Linked DNA regions of Homo sapiens: region 1 is linked to region 2. The links come from fine-mapping of genetic effects on gene expression. A gene starts in region 2. The other region holds a variant in brackets. All regions are shown on one strand. Distances are between the middles of the regions.

Region 1 (10,284 bases), 49 kb before region 2:
CAGATTTAAGGTCCCCATTTTGCAGATGTGGAGACAAAGGCTTAGAGAGGTAAGGTGACTTTCTCAAGGTAACACAGCTGATAGAACCCTGATCTTTTGCTTCTAGCTCTGATGATCTTCCCTTGCACCTGCTGCCTTTGAGCCATTAGGGAAGCATTTGTTGCTGTGTCTAAGCCCTTCTTGTGGGACTTACCCCCGATATGGTTCCTGATGGCAGAATAGGGTAAACACAGCCAAACGGTCTATATCACTCAATCTCCCAACCATTCAATAATATGTTGTACCAACTTTTTAAAGCTAAACACAGGTTAGTTCAACAAATCTTTGTGAGTCTGTTACAAAGATGAGGAGGATTTTAACAGTTGGAAATGAGTAATACATAACCTCATAAAAGCCACCCTGAACATTCCTCTTTGCAGATGAATTCTTACCCAATGCACTCACCGATTAGAAGGTTTACTGCTTGCAGACTTTTTAATTACTTCTATTCCATTTGCATTGGGAAAGAAAATCACATTAAATCCCTAAGATAGTTTAAGTGAAATAAAGTAAGTTGTAGAATGGTATGTATACTATATTATTATTTGTGGAAGATAAAAGAATAGACTTATACTGAAGCATGAATATACATAAACTGTCTCTGGAAGGGGCACACAAGAAACTGAAAACAGGAGTTTCCTCTGGAAAGGGAAACTGGAAGATAGGTGAGTGGGAAATGCTGCCCTTTTGAACCTTTTACATTTTGTACCCAGGAAAAAGAAAGTCAAATTAGGAGTAAAGGTCTATGGCTGTCTTGGGAAGCACTAGAATTGAAATCTCTGGGAACTGTCTTTCACTGTCTGTGTTTTATAGAGTGGTTTTGTGGAATGACTGCAAGGACAAAGGCAGTTAGGAGATTAATAGTATCTCCCTTACCCATCGCAGGTGGTAGAAAGGGAGGAGTCACATGACTACCGCTGCCTCTTCAGGGTCTGTTTTGTTCCCAAGGACCCCCTGGACCTCCTGAAAGAAGACCCCGTGGCCTTTGAATACCTCTATCTGCAGGTGACTGGGTCTGTGCTTCCTAAAATAACAGTGGTTGTTCTCAAAGATGGTGCACTGGGTGATTTTGAACGTGAGCTCGAGGCCATTAAACAACTCCCTGGTAGGGATTCTCTTTATCTGAAGGAGAATGGGCCTGATCATCGCTCAGAATTCCCTTTTCCATCACTGAGTTGCTGTTTTAGCAGGTGTGCGATATCAGAATGAAATTCAGGCTCAGTCCTCAATGTAGATGATACATTTTCTAATACCATTTTAGGATCTTTAGAATTACAGTTTTTATTGCCAAAAGGGGCCTTAGTGCTTTAAAACCTCGTTTTAGAATGATGACACTGAGTCTTGGAAAGGTCGTGTGATTTGCCTGGGTCACTCACTTAGTGGCAGAGCCAAAACCTGGTTCTTGATCCGTGGCCTGGTGCTCCCCCTATTCTACCTCCTTAGATGAGAGTTATGATGCCATTTTTATTCTGATGAAAAATAATCATTTGGAGCCGGGTGCGGTAGCTCACGCCTGTAATGTCAGCATTTTAGGAGGCCGAGGCAGGTGGACCACTTGAGGTCAGGAGTTTGAGAACAGCTTGGCCAACATGGTGAAACCCCGTCTCTACCAAAAATACAAAAAATTAGCCAGCCGTGGTGGCACACACCTACAGTTCCAGCTGCTTGAGAGGCTGTGGCAGGAGAATCACTTGAACCTTGGAGGTGGTGTTTGCATTGAGCCAAGATCATGCCACTGCACTCCAGCCTGGGTGACAGAGCGGGATTCTGTCTCCAGAAAAGAAAAAAAAAAAGAAAAAGAATCATTTGGCAGATATCACCATTTTACAGATGAGATAACTCAGACTAGGTGGATTGGACTGCCCCAAGTCTTACAGAAATGGTGGCAGAAAATAATAATAATAGCAATAACAACGCCATCAATACTTTATATTTGTATAACACTGTGTGCCTTATACCTGCTTTCATATGCATTATCTAATTTAAGTCTCACAGAAACCACATAAGGTAGATTTTACTATCCTCATTTACCAGACACCAAATGCTTGGAGAGTCTTGGTAACTTAACCAAGGTCACACAGCCAAGAACTGTCAGAGCCAGCTCTCAAAGCGGAGCTCCTGGTCCTGCTGCCTTTCACCCGAGAGAACGAGGGGACACAGTATGTCTGCTTTTGTTTCCCATCTGCTCTATTTAATCTCTTCTAGAGCTGCAGCGATGTGCTCCAGGAGCGCTTTGCTGTAGAAATGAAATGTAGCTCTGCACTCCGACTCGCGGCTCTGCACATCCAGGAACGGATCTACGCCTGTGCCCAGCCACAGAAGATCTCTTTAAAGTATATAGAGTGAGTGGCAGGGGATGGCAGCTGCATTGCATTTATAACTTGCTGGCCCCTGGCCAGGAGGGCCAGATGCCACAGAAAGCTGATAGTCACCCACCTACCCATCTGTCTGTTGTCTTTCCATCCATTTCCCTCTGCACCCTCTCTAATCTGACCTGGCTCCCCCAGATGTCTGAACCTGGCTGCTCTCTCTGGGACAGAAGCCAACTCCAGATGGAATGTCACAGGATTCCCTTGTAAATTGCCTGTTCCTGGGAAGATGTCTTGGGAAATCAGTTGCCAGCATCAGTGTTAAGCTTTTCTAGGGGTGGGAATGCCTTGGAAGTTAATTTTTCCCGTGGATATGAACCAGTTCCTATTGCATTATGTCTCCACTAGAGCAGTTTCAAGTCCTACGATTCCAGCACCTTCTGATTCTTAGCTTAGAATTGTTCTGGACAGCATCACTCAGGTTTGCTAAGCCCCTCCCCAGATCTCAGCTCTGTCCTGCCTGAGCATCAGAATCAGATGGGGAATCATATTTTTAAAAATACAGCATATCCTTGGCCCTACCCCTGATGTACTAAGTCCAATCTCTCGCAGCAGGGCCTGAGAATCTGTAGTTTTAGCAATTTTCTGGGGGATTTTGAAGCTGCTAGGCTGGCACCATGCTGAAGCTTAGCCTAGGGGATTCACAGGAGCTCTGCGTTGCCCCATGAGAGTGTCTTGTACTCTCTTGTATGCTGTCATTATTTGCCATGTATTTTGTAGTGAAAAAGATTCAGAACTCCTGCTCTGACTGATAGATGGTCACACCACACCAAGAGTAATGAGCTCCCAGAATGATCAATGGGGTTTAGTTCCTGAATGCCTGTGGGGATTTTTGTGGAGAGTGTGTGTATGTGTGTGTGAGAAAGAAAAAGAGAGGAGGAGAAAGTGGCTCGTAATTGCTGTATTATGGGAACACTAAGTACTGAATCAAATGTAATTATGCTCTTCATTAGAGCCAAGTACCCTGTAGAAATGGGCCTCCTTGTCTCCAATGTCTCATGGCAGGAAAGACTGGGGAATAGAGAACTTTATATCTCCAACTTTACTCCGAAACATGAAAGGCAAAGACATCAAGAAAGCCATTAGCTTCCACATGAAGAGGAACCAGAATTTGCTGGAACCCCGACAGAAGGTAATGAAGGTGCCTCTGCCGACCCACTCAGCTGTCGTCTGTGAAACCTTAGGAAAAACATTTTCAACACTGCCTGGATTTTAGACCAATGAATAACTCTGACTTCAAGTGTTTTTTTTTCTCTATTAAGCAACTTATTTCTGCTGCCCAGCTACGTTTAAATTATCTACAGATCCTCGGAGAACTCAAGACATATGGTGGAAGAATCTTTAATGCTACTTTAATGGTATGTATTAGAGAACTGTGAAATCCTACTCACGTAAGGGACCTTAGAGATCCTCTGAAAATCAATGTGTCTTTTAGCCTAAAATTCCTGAGGACTCTGTCA[T/C]GTACTAGAATTTGTCTGGTAAACTAAATAGTACACCACTGGAAAATATTTACCACGCGTTTGCTTGGTGCTACCCCTGTGATAGATGCTAGGGGAAGCAGGGCTGAATAAGATGTGATTTCCGTCCTTGAAGGATGAAACAAGCTACCCAACAAAATGAAGCAAAGCCATGAGACAGGTTCAGGCCTATTGCTGTGGAGTTTGGAGACAGAAGGTAGCACTGCTTGCTTCAGGGTAAGTATAGGGAGGAGAAGGGGTTAAGGAAAGAGGCAAGAGGAAGCCTGAATTTGGCCAGACTTCAGTAGAGAGGAAAAGGCATTCTGGGTCAGAAGGGGATGGTAAGCAGTTCACTCTGGAGCTTTGGGTATATGAAGGTGAAGAGGAAAATTGGAAATCATGAAAGAAAAATAAGAGTGTTTGACTGCCAAGCTGAGTCTCTGATTGTTCAGAAGGGAGGAATGAGGGGTGGGCCTGAGAAGAGAAACGAGAAGCAGAAAAGCCCTCTGCTCTCTTCCCATTCTCCTGCCTGCTTCTTTTTGGAGCCTAGGCCTAGAGCTTGTGCCTTTCAGCAGTCAGTGTCTCGGGGGTATGGTTTCAGAGAGCTTTCCTCCAGCACTGTCAGCCCCAGGACTCTGCAGCACAAAACCAATTTACAATTAGAGTGGGGTTTTAAAAAAATATTAACCAAAATCCTTTCAAAAGATTTGGTATGCATCTCAGTCATTTACAGTGATGGGCCAATGTAATCAGACTGCTAACCTAACAATGTAGATGGAAGAAGAGAATCAGTGTTTTGAAAGAAAGGAAGAGCATCAGATAGTTAGGGGAAGGGGAAACACAGATGGATTCTTCGTTTAAGTAGAAGACCCAAAAGGTGGGAAAGAGACTAGATCACAGAAAGGAAAGTTTTGAAGGTACAAGAAAAACTTCCCAATTTTTCTAAGGGCTAATTCTACCCTCTCCCAGCTGTCCAGTTCCAGTCCCCAGTCTCCCTTTACCTTTCTTGTCTAAGGAAAGAACTGGTAGTGGGAGAAGCAACCAGCTACATGGAACAGGTTCAGGGTGCTTGCTGGGCACTGCGGGTTACAAATAGAGATAAATGCAGACTCTGTTGTCAAGAAACTTAATGTGGAAAATGAGACTTAATACAAATAATTAAAATAAGAAGTCATAAGTGTTCAGTGCTAGTAGAGAAGTAAGAGGAAGTGGTACAGAACAACAGAGAGGAAAGGGAGATTTCTGGCTTAAGGAGGCTGAGATCAGGCAGATGCTTTCCATAGGCAGTAGGTTTTGATGTAAGCTTTTAAAGAAGGATCAGGATTTAAATGGGAAATGATGGCAGGGAAGGGATTCAAAGAGCAGGAAGATAGGTACATAGGTGTGAAAATACAGATGTGTTTATGGCTGTGGCTCAGGGCTATATTGGAAAGAGTTTTGGGGAAATAAATTTACACTTTGATTTAGCTGTTGATGGGGTCCAAGTTAGGCAATAGTCTGGAGGAGTGGTGGTTAGGATCCAAAGTAGGAATCAAGGAGTTTGCAGCGAGAGGTATTATTGCTTACATGTGAAATGTATTTTCACTCGCTTGCGAATGGAGACTAATTCCCCTTCCACCCTCTGCAGTTACAGGATAGAGAATCCTACATTGCCCTTCTAGTTGGAGCCAAGTATGGGATTAGCCAGGTTATCAATAGCAAACTCAACATCATGTCCACATTGGCAGAGTTTGCAAACATCAGCCGTGTAGAGCTAACGGAAGAGTCTGAGAAAGTGAGCGTCGTCAAAGTGTATCTTCAGGACGTCAAGGTAACACAATGGGGAGAGATTCTGAATTCAACTGCTGGAATTTGGGGCCAAATAGGGGCCAGGCTAGTTTATATGAATTTTAAATAATAATAAAGTCTAATGTCCAATATCTGCTTAAGAGGACGAATTGTCCATCCTGTTCTATCAAACGGAAAGTGGTAAATGGTAAATTTTCCTGAAGAGGTCCTAAAAGGTTTTTTTGCACAAACTGAGATGGACCATGTGCTTTCCTGTTGGATTTAGAAACGTAGATGGAGAACACCAGAGGATTTTTTTTTTTTTTTGAGACAGAGTCTCACTCTGTTGCCCAGGCTGGAGGGCAGTGACACGATCTTGGCTCACTGCAAGCTCCGCCTCGTGGGTTCACACCATTCTTCTGCCTCAGCCTCCCAAGTAGCTGGGACTACAGGCGCCCACCACCATGCCCGGCTAATGTTTTGTATTTTTTCGTAGAGATGGGGTTTCACTGTGTTAGCCAGGATGGTCTCGATCTCCTGACCTCGTGATCCACCCGCCTTGGCCTCCCAAAGTGCTGGGATTACAGGCGTGAGCCACCGCGCCCGGCCCACCAGAGGATTTTATCACATGAATGGGACCAGATTGCTGCTCAAAAGCTTTGAGTGGTGGGCATTAAAATGGGTAAATAGTGGGCCCGGTGTGGTGGCTCACGCTTGTAATCCCAGCTACTTGGGAGGCTGAGGCAGGAGAATCACTTAAACCCAGGAGGCAGAGGTTGCAGTGAGCAAAAGATTGCACCATTGCACTCCAGCCTGGTGACAAGAGCAAAACTCTGTCTCAAAAAAAAAAAAAAAAAAGGTAACTAGTGCAGGGTACCTCCTGAGCCTCTCTCAAAGGTCTTACTTTTATTCTGCCCTCCTTTGATTTAATCCCAACATACTCAATATTGGTGCTTTATTCTTATCACCCTCTCCCTCATTCTCCACATGTTCTTGCTCCTTTTTCTTTTTTAAGTTCAGTCTTGCAAGTCCCTCTGCAGGAATGAACAGGGTGGGATGGGGCAGTTTGGATATGGCGCTGGGGTAGAGGATGAGGAGTCAGAAGACACTGTATAGATTGGGTGGGAAGGACCCACTGTGTGTGAGTGAGTGTGTGAGTGCGTGAGAGTGTGTGTGTGTGTGTGTGTATGTGTGCGCACACACACACGCGATGGTGTCTGTACGAGTACATGCATGTCCTCATTTAAAGCCTTGCAAGTGAGGATATGGGGCACCAGGAGACCTACCTGTGGACCATGGCCGGATTTACCTGGAATCTCTCGTTGGTCCCACATGGCTTTGTTGTCAGTCTTCAGACTGTCCCTTGGTCCTTGATAAACATGAGATTTCTATTTGCTTTCAAAGGTTCTGACTTTGCTGCTGGAATCCAACAGTGCAAAAGACCTAGCCTGCCTGATTGCTGGGTACTACAGGCTGTTGGTTGACCCAGTTACCTCCATTTTCCTCTGGCCTGGAAACAAACAACAAGCGCACCGGGTATCTGCAGAAGAAGGTGAGGCACTGAGTCTTGCCCCAATAAGGACAGGCCCCTTTCACTGGCCTTGTAGGTAAGGGCAGCCTAAAGGGAGGTGGTGAATTGAATTGAGCCGAGGCTTCAGCTCAAGTGGATGAGAGCTATTTCTCTGTTTATTTCCTAGTAAACAATTGATCTTTCATAAATACTAAACAAAGAAGCTTTCTTTGTATCTGAAATTTTCCTGAAACCAAGGAATGCTGTGGAAGAGCTCTAGTTCCCTGCTGTATTTCCTAAGATTGTCTCTCAGATCCACTGCATTTTATCATTATTTCTCAGCCAGGCATTGTGGCTCACGCCTGTAATCCCAGCACTTTGTGAAGCTGAGGCAGGTGGATCACCTGAGGCCAGGAGTTTGAGACCAGCCTGGCCAACATGGTGAAACCTCATCTCTACTAAAAATACAAAATTAGCCGAGCATGGTGGCACATGCTTGTAATCCCAGCTACTTGGGAGGCTGAGGCAAGAGAATCGCTTGAACCCAGGAAGTGGAGGTTGCAGTGAGCCGAGATCGTGCCATTGCACTCCAGCCTGGGCAACAAGAGCGAAACTCCATCTTAAAAAAAAAAAAAAAAAAAAAAAGATTATCATTATTTCTCATCAAAAAGAGATGTCACTTATTTGTTCAGGAAGTAGATGACCTGGCTTCTCTTCCTTACCTATGCACTCTTTTGCAATCTCTTGAAGTATAAAAGAACTTCTCTGCAAGGCAGGTAAGACAGTTTCCTAGGCCAGCTCCCAGTTTCTGCCAGGCTTTTGCCTCAGCACCATTGATGCAGCATGAACCTAGGGCTGTGCTGATAAATGCTTAACAACTCCCTGCAGAGGGACAAAAACAGTTTGAAGGAATTGCCCAATTCCATGGTGTCAACATTCTCACGATGGGTAATTTCAGGCTACCACGATATGATGATACCATGATGAATGTGGAGATGGGAAGAGGTGATCAATAGCACACCACTGTAGAGTGTTTCCTCTATATGGATAAAGTAGAAATCAGCTCAAGAGAATAGGTACTAATACAATAAGTAAAACAGTTAGAAAGTGATGAGTTTGGAGTATCTGTTACCTTTGTTTTTATTTTTATTTTTTTTAGAGGCAGTCTCTCTCTGTCACCCAGGCTGGAGTGCAGTGGTGCAATCTTGGCTCACTGCAGCCTCCACCTCCTGGGTTCAAGTGATTCTCCTGCCTCAGCCTCCCAAGTAGCTGAGATTACAGACACCTGCCACCACGCCCGGCTAATTTTTGTACATTAGTAGAGATGGGGTTTCGCCATGTTGGTCAGACTGGTCTCGAGCCCCTGACCTCAAATGATCTGCCCACCTTAGCCTCCCAAAGTGCTGAGATTACAGGCATGAGCCACGGCGCCCAGCCTGTTACCTTTGTTGTTACACAATGTATTTATGAACGAGGGGTGACTCCTCAGAGTCTGCTCAGGGAGACAACGCAGAGTGGCAACAGGGCTGTTGTGGAGGGGTTGTGGGGGGGACTGCTGCTGCCTGTCAGAGAAAGTTCTCTAGAGGAAGAGGTATTGGAAATAGATCTTGAAGAACATGCTGGAGTTAACCAGGCACGGAAAAGGAAGACAGATCATTCAAGGCCGAGGGGGCCTGGAGGAATGACCCGAGGAAAAGGCCATGACCTGAAAGGAGCTCTCCCTATGGGTGGCTGGAACGTGGCAGGGAAGGCTGCCATGGGGGACTGGGTGCCTGAGGAGGGGCTGGACCATATTGCAAGAGGGGAAAAGGGAGATGGTGAAAAGAGATAGGAGCCCCACCACGAGAAGGGCAGCTAGACTACAGAGGAGACCTCAGCGCCATTCTGTGAGGGAGACACTAGACTGAAGGGGAGGTGTCAAGACCATCCTGTCGTGGGTACTAGACTGCAGAGGAGGGTTCAGGGCCATCCTGGGAGAGGGGGAAGAGCCTGCAGAGGAGGCCTTAGGGCCATCCTTTGAGGCAAGGGAGGACTAGACTGTGCATGAGGCGCCATGGCCATCCTGTGAGAAGGGCAACAAGGCCATACTGTGAGAGTCTGTAACTGTTGTGGGGGAGGCCAGGCTCTTCCCCGTAAGCAGGGCAGCCATCAGAGGGTTTAAGCAGGGTGTGATGAGGTCAGAGAGAAGTTTGAGAAAGATCACTCTGGAGGCTTACAGGAATAAAGAGATTGCAACCTGGCTCAGTGCTCCCCAGCCTCCTACCATTAATCCTTCCTGAGAACCTGCCGCTGGATGAGTTTTCACTGTCCTACAAAGCCCATAGCACCCATGGATCCAGAAGGCCAGGCTTTAGAATGGTGCCAGCCTAGCAGCCTCGTACTCGTCATAAAATTGCTAAAAATACAGATTCTCAGGCCCCACTTCTAGCGATCTGACTCAGTACATCAGGGGTAGGGCCAAGGATCTGTTGTATTTTTAAAATATGATTCCCCATCTGACTTTGACGCCCAGGCAGGATAGAACTGAGGTCTGGGGAGGGGCTTAGCAAACCTGGGCAGTGCTGCCCACACAAAGAGGAATCAAAGTAAATACCACATTTCCATGAACAGACAGTTCTCCTTGGAGGTGGGGATGGAGTTAATCCAGCCTCCTTTAGCTCAGAGAGATGTGGGACAGGCGGTCTGATAGCATGGGGAGAACATGGAAGCTGGAGTCCCTCGGATCCCGTGTTCGTCAGTATAGGACGGTCTTAGGCCAGCCACCCTCTGGCCCTCAGTTTTCTCGTCTGGCAGGGTTGGGTGGGGGTCAGGGGGCTAGAAGGACACATAGGTAGGAGAATTCTGTTGTGTAACTGTTGCTGTACCCTGTGTTGCAGGCTATGAATCCAGGGCCTGCAGTGACTCAGAGGAGTCCTCTGAGGTGGACTGCGTACTCGAACCTCTCTCTGACAGGCGCCTGGTGAAACTGGCACCCTGCAGATCACTCATAAAGGAGGAGCAGCCTCCTGGGAACAGCCCCACACCTGAGGTGGCTAGGAGGGGCCCCAGCACCTGCGGGGCCAGCAGCACGACAGACAGTGCCGAGTCCGAGGCGTCCGACTCAGCCAACACTGAGAGCCGCGGCTACAGGACCAGTGGCTCG
Region 2 (16,223 bases):
ACCTGGCCCCTTTCTTTTAATTGGGCTCTCTCTTCTCACACCCTAATGCCACTTGTTGCAGTGGTGCACCTGTCTTGAATCTTGTCTACCTTTTCCTCTAATTTGATGCTGCCTTTTGGCAATGAGCTGGAAGTTCCAGATATCCAGAATTGGGTCTTACTGAGTTAGGGCTCAGAATGTGCTCTGATTGATTAGACTGCTTGGGCCTTTTGATGCCTACTGTGGCTGCAGATGTGCCTCTTTTGCTTATTTCCCTCTTGGTTCTAAGTGGCAGTGAGTGGAGGACTGTGGATGAGTGACCCCCCAAAAAGTAAGATATTGTCACATAAGCTCTTGAGACAGTTAACTCATTATCTGCAGTTTCTTCCATTCCACAATAGGCTACTTATTTTTAATGCTGTATTACATTGAGAATATACTCATGTATAATTTTTATAAGAAAAATATTTAACTATATATTTACAGAAGGTGACATTTCAAAAGGCCCGGGAATACTCTGTCAAGACCGCACGCTTGCCAATCCAGGAATACATGGTCAGAAACCAGAATGGGAAAAACTATCATTCAGAGATACTGGCCATCAATCAAGGTACTTCTTACACGGCCCCCATCCAGGGTGTGTGAGTTCTGGTGCTGCTGCTTTGCACTGTGTTTAAGTGGCCTTTGAGTCAGTCTCCTCTGTGACTAATGTGTGTGGACTTTATTGCATGTACGTCATGACATATATTCTGGCCACTAAGAGGCATTCTGTTTTCTTCGTCACCAACTATGTTAAAGATAGTTGAAATTGTCCCCTTGGCCAGGTGCAGTGGCTCACACCTGTAATCCTGTAATCCACTTTCAGAGGCCGAGGTGGGTGGATCACCTGAGGTTAGGAGTTCGAAACCAGCCTGGCCAACATGGTGAAACCCCATCTCTACTAAAATACAAAAATCAGTCAGGCGTGGTGGTGCACGCCTGTAATACCAATTATTCCAGAGGCTGAGGCATGAGAACCACTTGAACCTGGGAAGTGGAGGTTGCAGTGAGCCGAGATCACACCACTGCACTCCAGCCTGGGTGACAGTGATACTCTGTCTCAAAAACAAAAAAAAAAGCTGGGCACGGTGGCTCACACCTGTAATCCCAGCACTTTGGGAGGCTGAGGTGGGCAGATCACCTGAGGTCGGGAGGTCGAGACCAGCCTGACCAACATGGAGAAACACCGTCTCTACTAAAAATACAAAAATTAGCAGGGCATAGTGGCAGGCGCCTGTAATCCCAGCTAATCTGGAGGCTGAGGCAAGAGAATTGCTTGAATCTGGGAGGTGCAGGTTGCGGTGAGCTGAGATCGTGCCATTGCACTCCAGCCTGAGCAACAAGAGTGCAACTCCGCCTCAAAAAAAAAAAAAAAAAAAAAAAAAAAAAAAAAAAAAATTGTCCCCTTCATCTAGAATGCCCAGCTTTTAACCTCTCACCACTGAATTCCTGTTTGATCTTCAGGGTTCAGTTCAGGAGCATCTTGGCCCTTCCCCATCCCAGGCCACAGCAGAGCCCTTCTGTTTCCCATTTTACTGTGTTCCTTTCTGTTGCACCCTATCCATTCATAGGCCTGTATCTTTCAGGGTAGGCTGAGGTCCTTGAGAGCAAGCAGAGCCTGTGTCCTTGCCTCTCCCCGCAAGACCTTAGTACCACATATGGTGCAGAATAGGTTTGTTGAACGAAATATTACAGAACATCCTTTTCATTTACTCGTTCTTTTTTTCCCTCTGTGGTCACTGTGTTTTCTGTTTACTCTCTAACAGTGTTTGATATCCTGTCCACTTACTTAGAGACTCACAACTGGCCTGAAGCATTGAAGAAAGGAGTTTCTTCAGGAAAAGGCTATATTCTTCGGAACTCAGTGGAATGATGGGCCTAAGATTGCAGCTGCGTGGCCAGGTGCTCACGCCGTAATGCCAACACTTTGGTAGACCGAAGTGGGCAGATCACCTGAGGTCAGGAGTTCACGACCAGCCTGGCCAACATGGTGAAACCCTTCTCTACTGAAAATACAAAAATTAGCCAGGTGTGGTGGCGCATACCTGTAGTCCCAGCTACTTGGGAGGCTGAGGCAGGAGAATCACTTGAACTCGGGAGGCGAAGGTTGCAGTGAGCCGAGATTTCACCAGTGCACTCCAGCCTGGGTGACAGAGCAAGACTCCATCTCAAAAAAAAAATAAATAAAAAAAAATGCAGCTGCAGGAGTGAGGCGCTTGGAGGTACCTTGACCCAAAGAGCAGGGCAGAGGGTGGCAGTGGCACATAGGCAAGTGTCTTTGCATGACATCTTCTCAGAGCTTCACAATAATGTCAGGGACCACATTTAATGCTTTTTAATCTCCCATAGTGCCTGGCTCACAGGAAGTGCTCAGATATGTTAAGTAATAAAAAGTTAATGTGGTGGGTGCAGTGGCTCACGCCTGTAATCCCAGCACTTTGGGAGGCTGAGGTGAGTGGATTACAAGGTCAGGAGTTCCAGACCAGCCTGGCTAATATGGTGAAACCTCGTCTCTACTAAAAATACAAAAATTAGCTGGGCATGGTGGTGCGTGCCTGTAGTCTCAGCTACTCAGGAGGCTGAGGCAGGAGAATCGCCTGAACCCGGGCGGCGGAGGTTGTAGTGAGCCAAGATCCAGCCTGGGCGACAGAGCCAGACTCTTGTCTCGAGGGGAAAAAAAAAAAAAATTATGTAACAAGGAATTAGCCTCAAAACCACATGGCTTTGGACGTGCTAATTCAACTTTTGTACATCTATTTGTGAGAGACCTCTTGAAATTGTTTAAATGGTTACATCAAGAGTTTAATATTCACTAAACTGGCATCATAAAATTGTATGACTTTCTCCAGCCTTGTCTGATCATGCTCGTTGTTGCCCAGCTCAGTAATAAGCTTTGCAGGATCCAGCCTGTTCTGACCTATCCCTACTGAGTCCCCATAGCATTTTGTTCCCTCCTGTGGCTCTTACCTTGTTCTCCCTTGCAGAGTATGGGCATGGAGGGCTTCTCTTCCTAATCCTTCCTAATGGTAGGATCCTAACAGGACAAATCTGTGTACCTATCTTTCTATCCTCCCTGAGCCTGTACCAACTAGATTCTTCATATGTATTTGTAACAGATTAAATTGGAAAGCAAACACAGTATTGATTAAGTCTGTCTTGAAAATAGCTAGAAAGTGTTAGACACATGAACACGTTAGATAACCTACTTATTACACAAATCTCATGTTCCTTATGTCCCAGTTGGACATATTTGCTTCAGTTACTCTGACAGTTTGGGTTAACTTGCTAGTTAAGCAGCTAGCAAATTTGGGACATGTATTCAATATCTCAAAAGAACCAACAGATTACTTCTCTGCTGTGTCCCCTCCCCTTCACAATTTAATTCCTAAGGAACTGTTCACCTAATCAGTACTTTTCTATTTAAAAACTGGCTAGACAGTTCATAATAAAAGATATGGGACCAACCTAAGTACCCATCAACCAATGAATGGATAAAGTGTGGTATATATATCCCATGGAATATTAGCCATAAAAAATGTCTTTTGCAGCAACTTGGATAGTATTGGAAGCTATTATTCTTAGTGAAGTAACTCAGGAATGGAAAACCAAATACCAAATGTTCCCACTTTAAGTGGGAGCTAAGCTACAGGTAAGCACACAGAGTGGTATAACAGATACTGGAGACCCGGAACAGGGAAGGGGGAAGGATAAACTACATACTGGGTACAATATATAGTACTCAGGTGACTGGTACACCAAAATCTCAGACTTCACCACTATACAATTCATCCGTGTAATCCAAAACCACTTGTACCCCTAAAAGCTATTGAACTAAAAACCATCCAGTCCTTAGAAAACATTAGAAACACACGAAGCTCCTTGGTCTTTATCAACAAATAGAGTTCTATAATCTCTTTGATCCAAAAAGGACTTTCTATGGATAGGCTTCAGGGGATCTGTATCTCACATATTCTCAGAGGTCTAGAAACCAAGAATCACTGATGTGGATCACCTGGCAGTCTCTTTACCTCTAAAGGTTTTGGTTAATATACTAAATAGCATAGAAGAGTTTTCTATGCTTAGCTCCTAGGAAATGATTTTAGCAAAATAAGACTTGGCCAGATTTGGATTCAGAAATCCTCATAGTGTTATTTATATAATGATAAAACTCAAAAATATCCTGTAACATGAAATATGTGACTAAAGTTGTGAAATGTATCATGCTGTTTGAAGTAGACAAAAGTATATTACAAAGTGGCATATAAGCTATAATAACTATAATTTCAATTTGATGAATATAGAGAATGTAGGCCAAGTTAAATTCTGTGCCTCAGTTTCAATTATGAGGATAAGTGTCTTCTGCAGTTAGAATAAAGGAGTTAATCCATGCAAAACACAATACTTGGTAAATGAAAAAGTATTTCGTTGTTATATACTCACCCGCTGAATAATGGGACTACAGGTGACATTTCTTTGCTGCTTTATACTTAGGTATTCCACATTTCCTCTGGTGAACCTGGCTTACTGTTATAATCACAAAATTATTTTACTGCTGACCTCCAGTTAATTATGGAAGCTGTAGCAATTACTAAGGGAGTTAACTCCAAATAAACCCTAATACTGTTTTTTAGTAAACTTTATTGTACCGAACAAAAAAAATGATTTTGCAATGATTTTCTCTCCCACAAAAGCGTGGGTGAAAACCAGTAACTTATAAAAATACTTTCGGACTCTAATAATACATACATTCACACCTTATCTTCTGAGTATTTAAATGGGGGAGGTTCACCTGAAAAAACCCATAGTTTTTTGCCTCAACTGACCTGTAAAAAAGTCCACCTATATCAACTTTCTGCCAATCTGGAGAAGATCTGTTTTCTTTGATCTGACGTCATGTGTTCACAAGCTTCTAAAATGTTTGCCAAAATTAAAGTCTGCTGGATGGTTTTTGCCTTAACCCATATTCTTCCATTCATTCCAAATACTATCTCCAGTGGATAGAGTTTTCCCACTTCCTGTATGATTTCACAATCTGGAGCTAATAGCCTGGTGGGAAGAGAAAAGAAAATGAAATTTAATGAAGTGGCAAAGGTGTGTCCGGAGTCTCCTTTAGAATGTGATTCCTTTTCTGAGCAGTTCTCCATAGCTGTTCAACAAGAACAAGGCACGTGATGACATTTGCTGCCTCCTTTCTTCCAAGAAGGAACTTTACACTGTTCAAAGGTATACTAGAAATCACAGAGGTGGGCTATGCCTTACAAAGAAATCAAACTCCCTAGGTTACCAACTTTGTAAAAGTCATTCCCCTAGATGGTCAGAGCACTTTAATTCTAGACTGGGAATCATAACTTTTTTTATCTACAGTGTTAAGACACTTTAAACTTATTTTCCTGGCCATATTATTCTCTTGTGTTAAATTCAGTACTTGGAGAGGAACATTGGCTCTTTCAAACCATAAGGGTGGTGCTTGGTTAATAACATGCTTCTTGGTTAAAAACATGCTTCTCTGATGTCCAAACTTAATTCTCCAGATCTTTAGGATATGTAGTAAGGAGAGGCATACAAGATAGCTCTCAACTTCACTGGCTCTAGGAGTAAAGCCCCTGAATATGGCACAGCTTTGGGTGGGTAAAGTTCTAAACACCAAAAAGAGAATCTGCCTCAGCATGAACCTCAGTATGCCTCAGTATGACCAAGTGTCAGAAGCCTTCTGTGAATGTCTACATAACCTTGAACATCACAATCTAAGCTGCGTGTGACCCCCATAATTAGAAAAAATTGATAATTTTATACAACTGCAGACTGCATCTGTATTCAAGTGACTCAGAACAGGGGAAAGGCCAGTTTTCACATTTGGGCTAAGTCAAATAAGCAACAGGCCTGGGAAGGAAGATATGAATACAGAGTAAGAGCTTAAGGCATGAAGTATCAGCCCACCAGAAACTACACAGCCAAACACATCTGAATTTGATATGTTTCCAAGAAGATAGGATTAAATTCATGAGTTTCCAAATGTGTTAAAATGGATACTGATTTCTAACTCTGAGGAGAAATTCAAACGTTACAAAGAATCTGAATCCTGAAGATTAACCAACTTTCCAAGAATGTATAATTATAAAAAGCAGTCAAGCCAGCAGACATCAGGACTTACTTTCTAATTAAGCCCAGAGTCACTTTAAAAAGCAGACCATCCTGTCCAATGACACCCATTCCATTGGCTCGTCCACAGCTGTCAATACAGACCATCTCTGGTTCCATGTCTTTATTAGCAACCACAAACTGGCCATAGATGAGATCTCCAACCTACAATGATATTAAAAACCAGTTCATTTCCTCTCAGCAAACTACAGGTGCTACTATTGGTTCTTTCTCACAGGCATCAATGCCAGCCACCTACAGTTCTGTGGCTAAGGGACTGACTGCACTATAGGATTCCCACAGTCACTTTGGAGTTGAGTCTTGGGGAAAAAAAGGAACACATGTATCATTCCCTTTCACCAATCAGGAAATCACAGACGAGGAGCCATCTCAAGGCCAGAGAACACTAGGATTGCACTGTCCAATATGGTAGATAGCCAATTGTTTAAACTTACATTTAAATTAAAATTAGGTATTTAAAATTAATTTCCTGAGTTGCATTAGCCACATTTCAAGTGCTCAACAGCTAGTGGCTACCATACTAATCAGTGCAGATACAAAACAGCATCACTGTAGAAAGTTATATTAGGTCGCACTACCCTAGAGAATTACAGATTTACAGAGAAAGGAAGGAACTCCGGCATGCAAATTATTCAAAGCAAAATCAAACAATAATTCACTGACACTTCTCCCTGCAGGATTTACTTAAAAACCTCATAGAGCTAAACTTCAAAGGGACGAAACTGAGGAAATGGAGAGTGAACTCATTCTGTTCACTCAACAAAACGTATTAAGTACCTACTGTTTGTTGGTGACTATGTAAACTAGAAAGGAACAAAACATTCTCTGCTTTTCAGAAGCATTTGGTCTTGGAGGGCAGTGGGGAGGTACATATAAACAAACCTCAGTCAAGGCTCAATCCAGTAAGTGCTAGAGCAAAGATACGAGAAAAGTGGCAACTAGAGATGGCTTTACAGAGGTGGTCATGTTTAGCCTACGTCTCAAAGAATGAGAATGTGTTCCATAGGGTGCGAAGGGATAGTGCAATCAAGACAGTGGGAACAGCATGTGCAAATAAGGGCAGGAAATTGAGTTTAATGGCGTTTGGTGTGATTTGAGTATGGCTGTATGAAGGATATAATTAGGGATGAGGAAAGACACCTGGAGTGTAATGCCAAGGAATTCTGTAGATTTTGGAGAATCTTGTCTTTTCGAGAAAGTGACCGTGTGAGGATGTCAGCTCTCAAAATCCTGGATGGTGAGGTAAAAGCGTGGAGGCAGGGATTAATGAAGAAGTGACTGAGACCAGTCAAGAGGGAGCTGAAGCCTGAACTTGTGGAGATAAAGGGACGGACATGCCAAAGATCAGAGACAGAATCAAATAGGATCAAAATAGGATTAAGCAACTAAATTTGCATGAGAAGTGAATGAGAAGAGGTGAAGAAATCACTAAATTTCAGGCTGGATAGACAAGAAGAGTGTGGCTATGCTACCTGAAAAGCTCAAATTGAAAACCCAAGGTAACAATATTACTCCTCTATCAGCTCCTAGGACCTACAGCCAGGATGGATGGATAGCTGATAATGTCAATTTGCACCACCTGTCCCTCCTCTAAGCCTACAGCAGACATCCTTGTCCAGAGGATATGGACATAACAAATAATGGCGATGATAGATACAACCTTTCAACTCAGTAGAAATGAAACATCCCAAGAACAAATGTAGCCAATGTAAAATAAATTGTAAATGTAAAAAATAATAATAATAATTATGTGGCTCTGATCCTGGAGCATCTGAAGAAACTCTTGGAGCCTGGGGCAATTATATACAAGCTCAGAGATCTAGGTCATGCTTTGGAGACAATTCAGATAGCCTTCTGGATATGTGAGTGTTCTAGGGAATGGATGTTTGTTTCTTTGAAACCAAAGGCTCCCGTAATTACCTGCACATTTGGTCTGTTTCTTTTAGTTGCACCTTCAAATGACAAGTAAGACAAAGAAGCTGGCTCACTCCCTCCAACATCAACTTTGAATATATCTCCAGATTTAGCTGTCACTATGCCAATCACATGGTCTCCTTTTACTGGAACATACTACAAAAAGAAACAGAATGAAAAAACAGCCATAAATGACAAGATACCATTGGAAGATACCTTCAGCAAGTCCTTTGTGGTTACTTTATTGTCATTAAAGAGAAATCTGATCAAATGCCACTTTCGGTAAAAGAAAATCACTTCATAAAGTGCCGGGTGTGCAGCTTCTGGTAGTCTGTTAATTGAGTCCAAACTCCATTATCTCTTAGGCACCCCAACCAGTAAGTCTCTAGCTTTGTGGCATAAGTCCAGTGGCAAAGGAATCCTTACAACCAAGGAAGCCCATTCCATAGACAATTTTTTCTATATGAAATTCTTACCTGTTCTAGGAGAAATTAACTCCCTATGACATCCACTCATTGAGCCTAGTCCTGCCCTCTGAGACTCCAAACGGCAGGCCTGCTGTGGGGTTTTGAAGACTATAATCATGACTCACGGTCTCCAAACGTTTTTCTCTCCTGGTCGCCCTTCTCAGGCTATGTTCCTATTGTTCACGGTCCCTCTAAAGGACATGCAGAAGTGGGCACAAGACTACGGTGGCTCTAGGTTTGCCTGAACAAAAGAGGGCCTCAGGGTCCCTCTCTTCTTTTGGGAGGTCTTCTCAAAGCAGGGCTACCACTCTCACTGCCGCACCACCCCTCCGGAGTCCCAGCTCACCCGCTTCTGCTGAGAGTCCACCCAGTAAACACCGCCGCCGCTGCCACTGCCGGGCTCCTTGTGACGGAGGCGGCCGCACTTGGTGACCAGCAGGCGGTCCCCACAGCGCCGAAGGCCCGGACCGCATACAACGCGCACCCGCGAGCACGCTCTAGCATTCAGGCTCAACGGTCGCTCCACTGCACCCCCAGGGCCTTCCGCGTCCTCCTGTTCCGGCAGGAGCAGCTCCTCACCCGGGAGCACCACCTGACCTAGTACTGTGCGTGCAGCGCGCGCCCTGCTGCCCGCGAGAGATTCAGCCGCGACAGACGCAGGTTCGGCCATCGCGGGCTCCACCAAACACCGTTTCCGGTACCCGCCTTCCGCTTCCGCTCCGCTTCCAACACCCGCCCTTGAGGACTTTCCGTTTCCGGCAGTAGCGGTCCGTTGGATTCGGACCAGTTTATGAAGCTTGATGGCCGTCAGCTCACGGGTCCCTGTCCAAGGTGGCAGTGATTGTGGCCGGCCACCTATCTGACAGCCTGGCCGCGGGTCGGTATGAAAACCGCGCAGCTTGGTCCATCGAAAAGCCTCCACTTCCAGTGTCTCGGGTCGCGTGTTTTGTGACCGGTCGCATCGTGGGGATACGAGATACTTCCACTTAAGAGTTTCTTGGGATCTCTGGAAGCTGAGCAGAGGGGCTTTGAAAATTGGACGCTGGGGCCGGGCGCGGTGGCTCACGCCTGTAATCCCAGAAGTTTGGGAGGCCGAGGCGGGTGGATCATTTGAGGTCAGGAGTTCAAGACCAGCCTGGCCACCATGGTGAAACCCTGTCTCTACTAAAAATACAAAAATTAGCCGGGCGTGGTGGCACGCACGTGTAATCCCAGCTACTCGGAAGGCTGAGACAGGAGAATCACTTGAACCTAGGAGGCGGAGGTTACAGTGAGCCTAGATGGTGCCACTGCACTCCAGTCTGGAGGACAGAGTGAGACCCTGTCAAAAAAAAAAAAAAAAGGGAAATTGGACGCTAGGTGGGTTCATGGGACCTTCTTTCCGACTCCGCCCTCAGAAGAGTGGCTGACCTTTTAACAGGAAAAGTAGTTTTTTTCAAAATAAATAAAACCTTCTTGGTTGTTAGAGATCTAGTCACATTTAGAAAACACAGAGAAAAATAAAAGAAGAAAATAAACGATGTTTTAATCTTGCCCGTTTTTCTCCCTTGCTACACTGTAGTTCTGATTCTTTAGAGCCCAAGGTGTGGCATGAAATAGGTAATACCTGATGAATGAACGAATGTATTCCTTTGGTGTGTATTTCTCCCTAGACTTTTTCCCCCTGCAAATATACATATTTCACATGCTTCCGATAGCCCTACATGGCCTGGAATATCAGTAACTCAAATTTCCCTGGAGCACACTTAGTTGCGCACGTGAGAAGCAGTTGAATTCCAAACCCAAAGAGATTCCAATCATCTATCTGACTTTGGGGGTTCTATTTTAAATCACCGTTTTCTCTGTCAACTCGAACCTTCAATTAGTGCTTGATCAGATTCTCCAGCAGTGGTAGAATTCCTAGGGTCTGGGAGGCCGTGACTGACCGATTGCCTTTAGCGGCCCTCCCTTTCTACTGCTCATCTCTTTGAGGCACCTGCTTCCAACGTAATTTTTAGATTTTTTTTTTTAGACGGAGTCTCGCTCTGTCGCCCAGGCTGGACTACAGTGGCACCATCTCGGCTCACTGCAACCTCCGCCTCCCAGGTTCAAGCAATTCTCCTGCCTCAGGCTCCCGAGTAGCTAGGATTACAGGAGTGCACCACCGCACCTGGCTAATTTTTGTATTTTTAGTAGAGACAGCGTTTCACCATGCTGGCCAGGCTGGTCTTGAACGCCTGACCTCAAGCGATAGGCCCACTTTGGCCTCCCAAAGTACTGGGATTACAGGCATGAGCCACCAAGCCCGGCCGAATTTTTAGATTTTTTAGGATGATTAAGACAGATCATCTCTAACACACCCTCCAAATTTGGCAAGCCATTTTCCCCTGGGTATAAAAAAAGGTCAACAAATAAAAGGAGCTCCCACCTCCAGGTTAGTTTCCCTGGCAAGAGTGGGAGCTCCTGTGGCAGGGACAGCGTAAATTGTGCTCTCTTCCCCACTCCAGAAGTATTCGGTGACCACGCCTGCCTCAATCTTGGCAGGCCCAAGGCCATGGCTCAAGGGCGCTCAAGGACCTCACATTCCGGCCAGGCAAACAGGCAGGTCGGTAAATGTTCTCTGGACCGTCTTTGATACACCCCATGTCGGTAGTGAAGTCTCTGGAGGAAACTCGGCCCAGATCTAGCGGCTGAGTCCTATGAGGCCCACTACCCTGTGGAGGCCGCACGTGGCGAGCGGTGTAGCTCTCTCGCGGGTCAAGGCAGATGAAACAGGGAGGCCGGGACCCGAAGGCGGTGGCTGGGCGGGGCTCCACTCCTGAACACCTACCACCCTGACACGCCCAGAGCGGGTGGGGCACGCGGGACCGCAGCCTGCCCACCAGACCGCGCGCAACCGAGGAGGTGTTTCGCCACCTGGCGGTCTTGCGCCCTGTCGAGAGTGAGCACCCGGTCCTAGGCGGCGGGAGCCCTAGGCCGCGAACGAGTGTCTCGAACCCGGCTTCAAGCCGTCGAGGGCGCGCGGGTCGGTTCTAGCGTCCCATGGGTCGCGGTTCGCGTTTTCGGGCAGCGCGTGCCTCCTCTCCTGGTTATAAAAGTGGGAAAAGTGCAACGACTGGGGAATGCAGAGGAGGCCAGAGCCCGGTGCAGGCGGCGTGCGCGCTTTGCCCTCTGCGGGTGCGTGTGTTTCCTTGCCAATCGCGAGGTGGATTACGCCCGTTCTCTTCAGAGGCTTACTGGTTTCGAGCCGAAGCAGTCGAGACTGCTCACCTTTCCAGTGCCTCTGGCCTACGTCTCCCCATTCGGAGTGTAACCAGGCCCCTTGAGATTTAAGTAGTCTGGCATTTTTAGTAACTGAAGTATTGAAAATTCCGTTTGGTGTTTTTTTTTTTTCTGTTTTGTTTTGTTTTTTGTTTTTGAGGCAAAGTCTCGCTCTGCCGCCCAGACTGGAGTGCAGTGGTACGATGTCGGCTCACTGCAACCTCCACCTCCTAAATTCAAGCGATTCTCTTGCCTCAGCCTCCCAAGTAGCTGGGATTACAGGCATGCACCACCATGACTGGCTAACTTTTGTATTTTTAGTAGAGAGGGGGTTTCGCCATGTTGGCCAGGCTGGTCTCAAACTCCTAACCTCAAATGATCCGCCTGCCTCGGCCTCCCAAAGTGCTGGGATTCCGGACGTTAGCCACCGCGCCCGGCCGTAGTGAAAATTCTGATCAGGCCCTTGCCTGCATGCACATAGTAAGCGCTCCCGTTTTGCCCAATATCTCTTGTTCCCACAATATAATTATAAACTGCTGTTGTCCTGTTTCTTTGTCTAGCAGGAGAGATAACTTCAGGGTCATGAAAATATTTTGCAGAAGGAATGAATGCCATTAAGGACTTTTTGACCAGCTGCTGACACCCATAAGTCTGGTTGCTCAAAGTTTTATCTGAGACTGTAGAGGCACAGACTTTTCCCCTCTGTTCCCGGAAACCCTCCCTCACACCCTACCCCATAAAAACGCCTGCTGTCATCTCTTTGTTAAGTAACATTTGAGAGATCTTGCTCTTCCGCCTTCTTGCTTTGGCCCAATTGAACAAACCTTTCTCTATCTCCAAGCACCTGTGTCTTAGCGTTTGGCTTCAGCTCTGCATCAGGTACATGAGACTGAATTTGGGGTTACACAACATTAGTATGACATATGGGGAAATTGCCAAATTGACCTTTGGAAAGGTTGGACCAGAGTGTAGCTTTCTGGACTCCTCCCAGAACTTCCTCTTCATAACTAATCTTTGCTAGTTTAGAAGTTAGAAACGTGGCATCTCACGGTTGCTTTTCTTTACCGACTGGTGAGGTTGGGCATTTGTTCCTTTTAACCAACACTAGTTGAGCATTTGCTTTCAGCCAGGAATTGAGCTGGGGAGGCGGCTGAGTCCTGGTCCCTGCCCTTGGGGGAGTTCACTCTCTCCACATGAAGATAGCAAGTGTTAAGGTGGATGCAACAACCTGAATAGAGTGTCAGCCCTGAGGGTACAGAGGATGAAATAGTTGTCTCTACATGGAAGGAAGGCAGGGGTTAGGATAGGTGTTACAAAGGAAGTAATAATTTGAGTGAATCTTTAATATTTTTTACTTTACTAGTTTCTAAAATTATAAATGAACTACATGCTAATTTACATACTGAAATTAACCATAAAAGCCCATGAAAGTATTGTTAACATCTTTATTCAAATACAGGATTTAATCTAAAAACATAAATGCCCACAGTTATCACTGCACAAATGACAGACTACTTGCTACAGATATTTTTACACAAGGATCATAACTTCTCAAACAGGATTTATTGTAAAAAGTAAAAGAACACTTTTTTTTTTTTTTTGAGACGGAGTCTTGGTCTGTTGCCCACGCTGGAGTGCAGTGACTTGATCTTGGCTCACTGCAACCTCCGCCTCCCAGGTTCAAGCGATTCTCCTGCCTCAGCCCCGCAAGTAGTTGGGACTACAGGCACACATCACCACTCCCGGCTAATTTTTGTATTTTTAGTAGAGACGGGGTTTCGCCACATTGGCCAGGCTGGTCTCGAACTCCTGACCTCAGGTAATCCGCCCATCTCGGCCTCCCAAAGTACTGGGATTACAGGCGTGAGCCGCCACACCTGGCCCAGAACACGCTTTTTTCTTACCAACTACTGTTTTAAATGTATTAGCAATTCCATAAAATATAGTTTCCTCACCATCATTTCCCAAATCTGAACTACATTCTGTTGGCTAGATTCTTATGTGGAATAACATTCAAGTTTGGTCTTAGTGTATCACAATACAGGATTGATTTTAAATACTCAAAATTACATGGTTTTCTGGTTTCCAACAGCTTTGCCATTTATCTGCATTTCTTGAATAAGGAAACATCTTTCTAGTTCATGTTTATTTTCATTTTGTAGTGTGTGTGTGTGCCTGTGTCATGGCACCCTTTGTTAGAGAAGAGCCCCAACCTCCTAGAGAATAGCAAGAAATAACAAGACTCCAACGGAGACGACTAAGCAAGAAAGCAGGTTCACCAGCCACAACTCCATTGGTACCAATGTAGATGAGATTTGGTGGATCAGATGAAGAAATTTATTATTCAACACAGCATACAGTAGGAGTACCAGCAAGGTAGCACTGGTTGGCCTGTCCTCAAGTCCTATGGAGTAAATGCAATGGGCCCGGACAGTGGTTGCACATGCAGTGGTTTGCACCATGACTGAGGGATCCAGGGCTAAGGGCCTAGCATCTTTTGTAGCAAGTGGCAAACCAACCAGCCTCCTTCCCTGAGGGAGTGAGCTGTTGTATGGTAGTTATGCTGTGGTCATCTTAACCTAGTTAAATGCCGATGTGACTAGCTAGAAATGGTTCAGTATTAGGGGAAAGTTAGGCCTTGTGTTTGGCATACTTCGCAAGCACATGCAGAGATGCTCAAGGCCACAGCAAACTGCCTGTCCCAATAGAAGTCAAGGCCTGTCATCATCTGACTCTACCTTATCTCTGCAGTGTCATCTCATGCAATTTTTTTTAGTGATCTAAGTTTTTTATCATTCTGGACTATTCACCAAGGCCACTTTAGCTGTTGTATTCTTCTAGCTACTGATTCTCTCCTCTTATCTCCTGCCACACAGCAAGATTCCTGAACACAGACAATAACTGCTCAATAAATGTAAGGATGAAAGGGCCTGAAATTGTGACAACTACATAAGAAAACTGTGTGTCATGATGCTATTAAGGGACTGTATTCATTGAATTCCTTCTATATACAAGGTCCAGGCATAGATGGATCCATGGAAAAGCTTAAGATATCTTCATCAGTCAAGGTCTAATCAGAAGACAAACCATGCTCATTTGAATAAAGACAGTTTAATATATGAGGAATTATTAGCTATAACAGGGTATTAGAATAATGAAGCACTGGCTAATAAGAACTAGAGAGCTTTAAAGAGTATAGCAATAGCAGATATAAGGAACAGCTGCTACTCTAATGCTGTGATAGAGTTCCCAAAGAGGAGCCTCTCGCCTCCAGCCAGGGCAGATTGAGACCCTTTTGAAGAGAGTGTGGCTGTGGCTCATTAAATGGCAAGAAGTCACTGGGAATCTTCCAGTGGAACTTCCTATAAATCCACCCTCTAGAATTTTCTGGCACTTTTACGTTGCTGAGGAAACGTATTCATGGGGAGGGGTCTCCTGGAAGCCTCTGCTATAAAACTGCCCAATAGGGTGCTAAGGAACACTGCTGGCTGCTGAGTGTTTCTGGCCACCAATCAAAGCAGGAACAGATGCTGGAGAAGCTGCTGTGCTGCAGAAGTGTGCCAGTGAGCACAACTGGACCAGGAAGCAAAACCCATTCCTCCTGAAACGCCTCTTCAGGGCCTTCTACCTATAAAGCATATCATCACGAAAGAGAACAAAGGAAAAAAAATTTAAGGCTCAGATCCATTTTCTCAGAGCAGTCAGTGAAGGATGAATTTGGACCTGAGAGACAATACATTGATAACTGGCACAAGGTCTCATGAGGTGGTGTATTAGTCCATTTTCATGCTGTTGATAAAGACATACCCAAGACTGGGAAGAAAAAGAGGTTTAATGGACTTACAGTTCCACATGGCAGGGGAGGCCTCACAATCATGGCGGAAGGCAAGGAGGAGCAAGTCATGGATGGTAGCAGGCAAATAGAGAGCTTGTGCAGGGAAACTCCCATTTTTAAAACCATCCAATCTTGTGAGACTTATTCACTATTCTGAGAACAGCACAGGAAAGATCTACCCCATAATTCAATCACCTCCCACCAGGTTCCTCCCATGACACATGGGAATTGTGGGAGTTACAATTCAAGATGAGATTTGTGTGGGGACACAGCCAAACCATATCAGGTGGTAATATCAAACTCATCAGTAATAGCAATAAGGTAGAGTCTGCCCATTCCCAGATGGCTTCACTGGTGAACTATACCAAACATTTAAATAAGAATCAATACCAGTTATCACAAACTCTTACAAAAAACAGAAGAGGAGGGAACACATCCCAATTCATTTGATGAGGCTAGTATTACCCTGATATCAAAACTAAAGACATCACAGGAAAAGGAAACTATCCTTTTCCTTTATGAATCAATATCCTTTATGAATACAGACACAGAAATCTTCAACAAAACACTAGCAAACTGAATCCAGCAAC

Direction of the effects. Positions count from the first base shown, and alleles are read on the strand shown. Sizes are in standard deviations (SD) of each study's normalised expression.
With allele T in place of C in region 1, the expression in monocytes after interferon gamma of the gene that starts at base 9,248 in region 2 is lower (small effect, 0.38 SD a copy in Fairfax 2014).

Evidence for each region.
Region 1: its variant is fine-mapped to the expression of EXOSC3 in monocytes after interferon gamma (Fairfax 2014, PIP 0.95).

What each region holds. Positions count from the first base shown.
Region 1 is chr9:37,730,060-37,740,343 of GRCh38, forward strand. It overlaps FRMPD1 (FERM and PDZ domain containing 1), which reads left to right. Exons shown (of 16, transcript NM_014907.3): 9 at 925-1,044; 10 at 2,245-2,381; 11 at 3,414-3,540; 12 at 3,671-3,766; 13 at 5,493-5,675; 14 at 7,037-7,184; 15 at 10,019-10,284. Among named protein-coding and RNA genes, the nearest start is that of TRMT10B, 19 kb to the right of the region's middle. The variant T/C (reference allele first, on the strand shown) is at 3,869.
Region 2 is chr9:37,775,817-37,792,039 of GRCh38, forward strand. EXOSC3 (exosome component 3) reads right to left here and starts at 9,248. Exons shown (of 4, transcript NM_016042.4): 1 at 8,905-9,248; 2 at 8,098-8,247; 3 at 6,170-6,321; 4 at 3,898-5,064. The coding sequence starts at 9,228. The coding sequence ends at 4,863. TRMT10B (tRNA methyltransferase 10B) reads left to right here. Exons shown (of 9, transcript NM_144964.4): 8 at 466-589; 9 at 1,785-3,156. The coding sequence ends at 1,891. It overlaps LOC105376037 (a long non-coding RNA gene), which reads right to left. Exons shown (of 3, transcript XR_929599.3): 3 at 13,230-15,426. RefSeq lists enhancers at 8,931-8,990, 8,988-9,503, 9,001-9,140.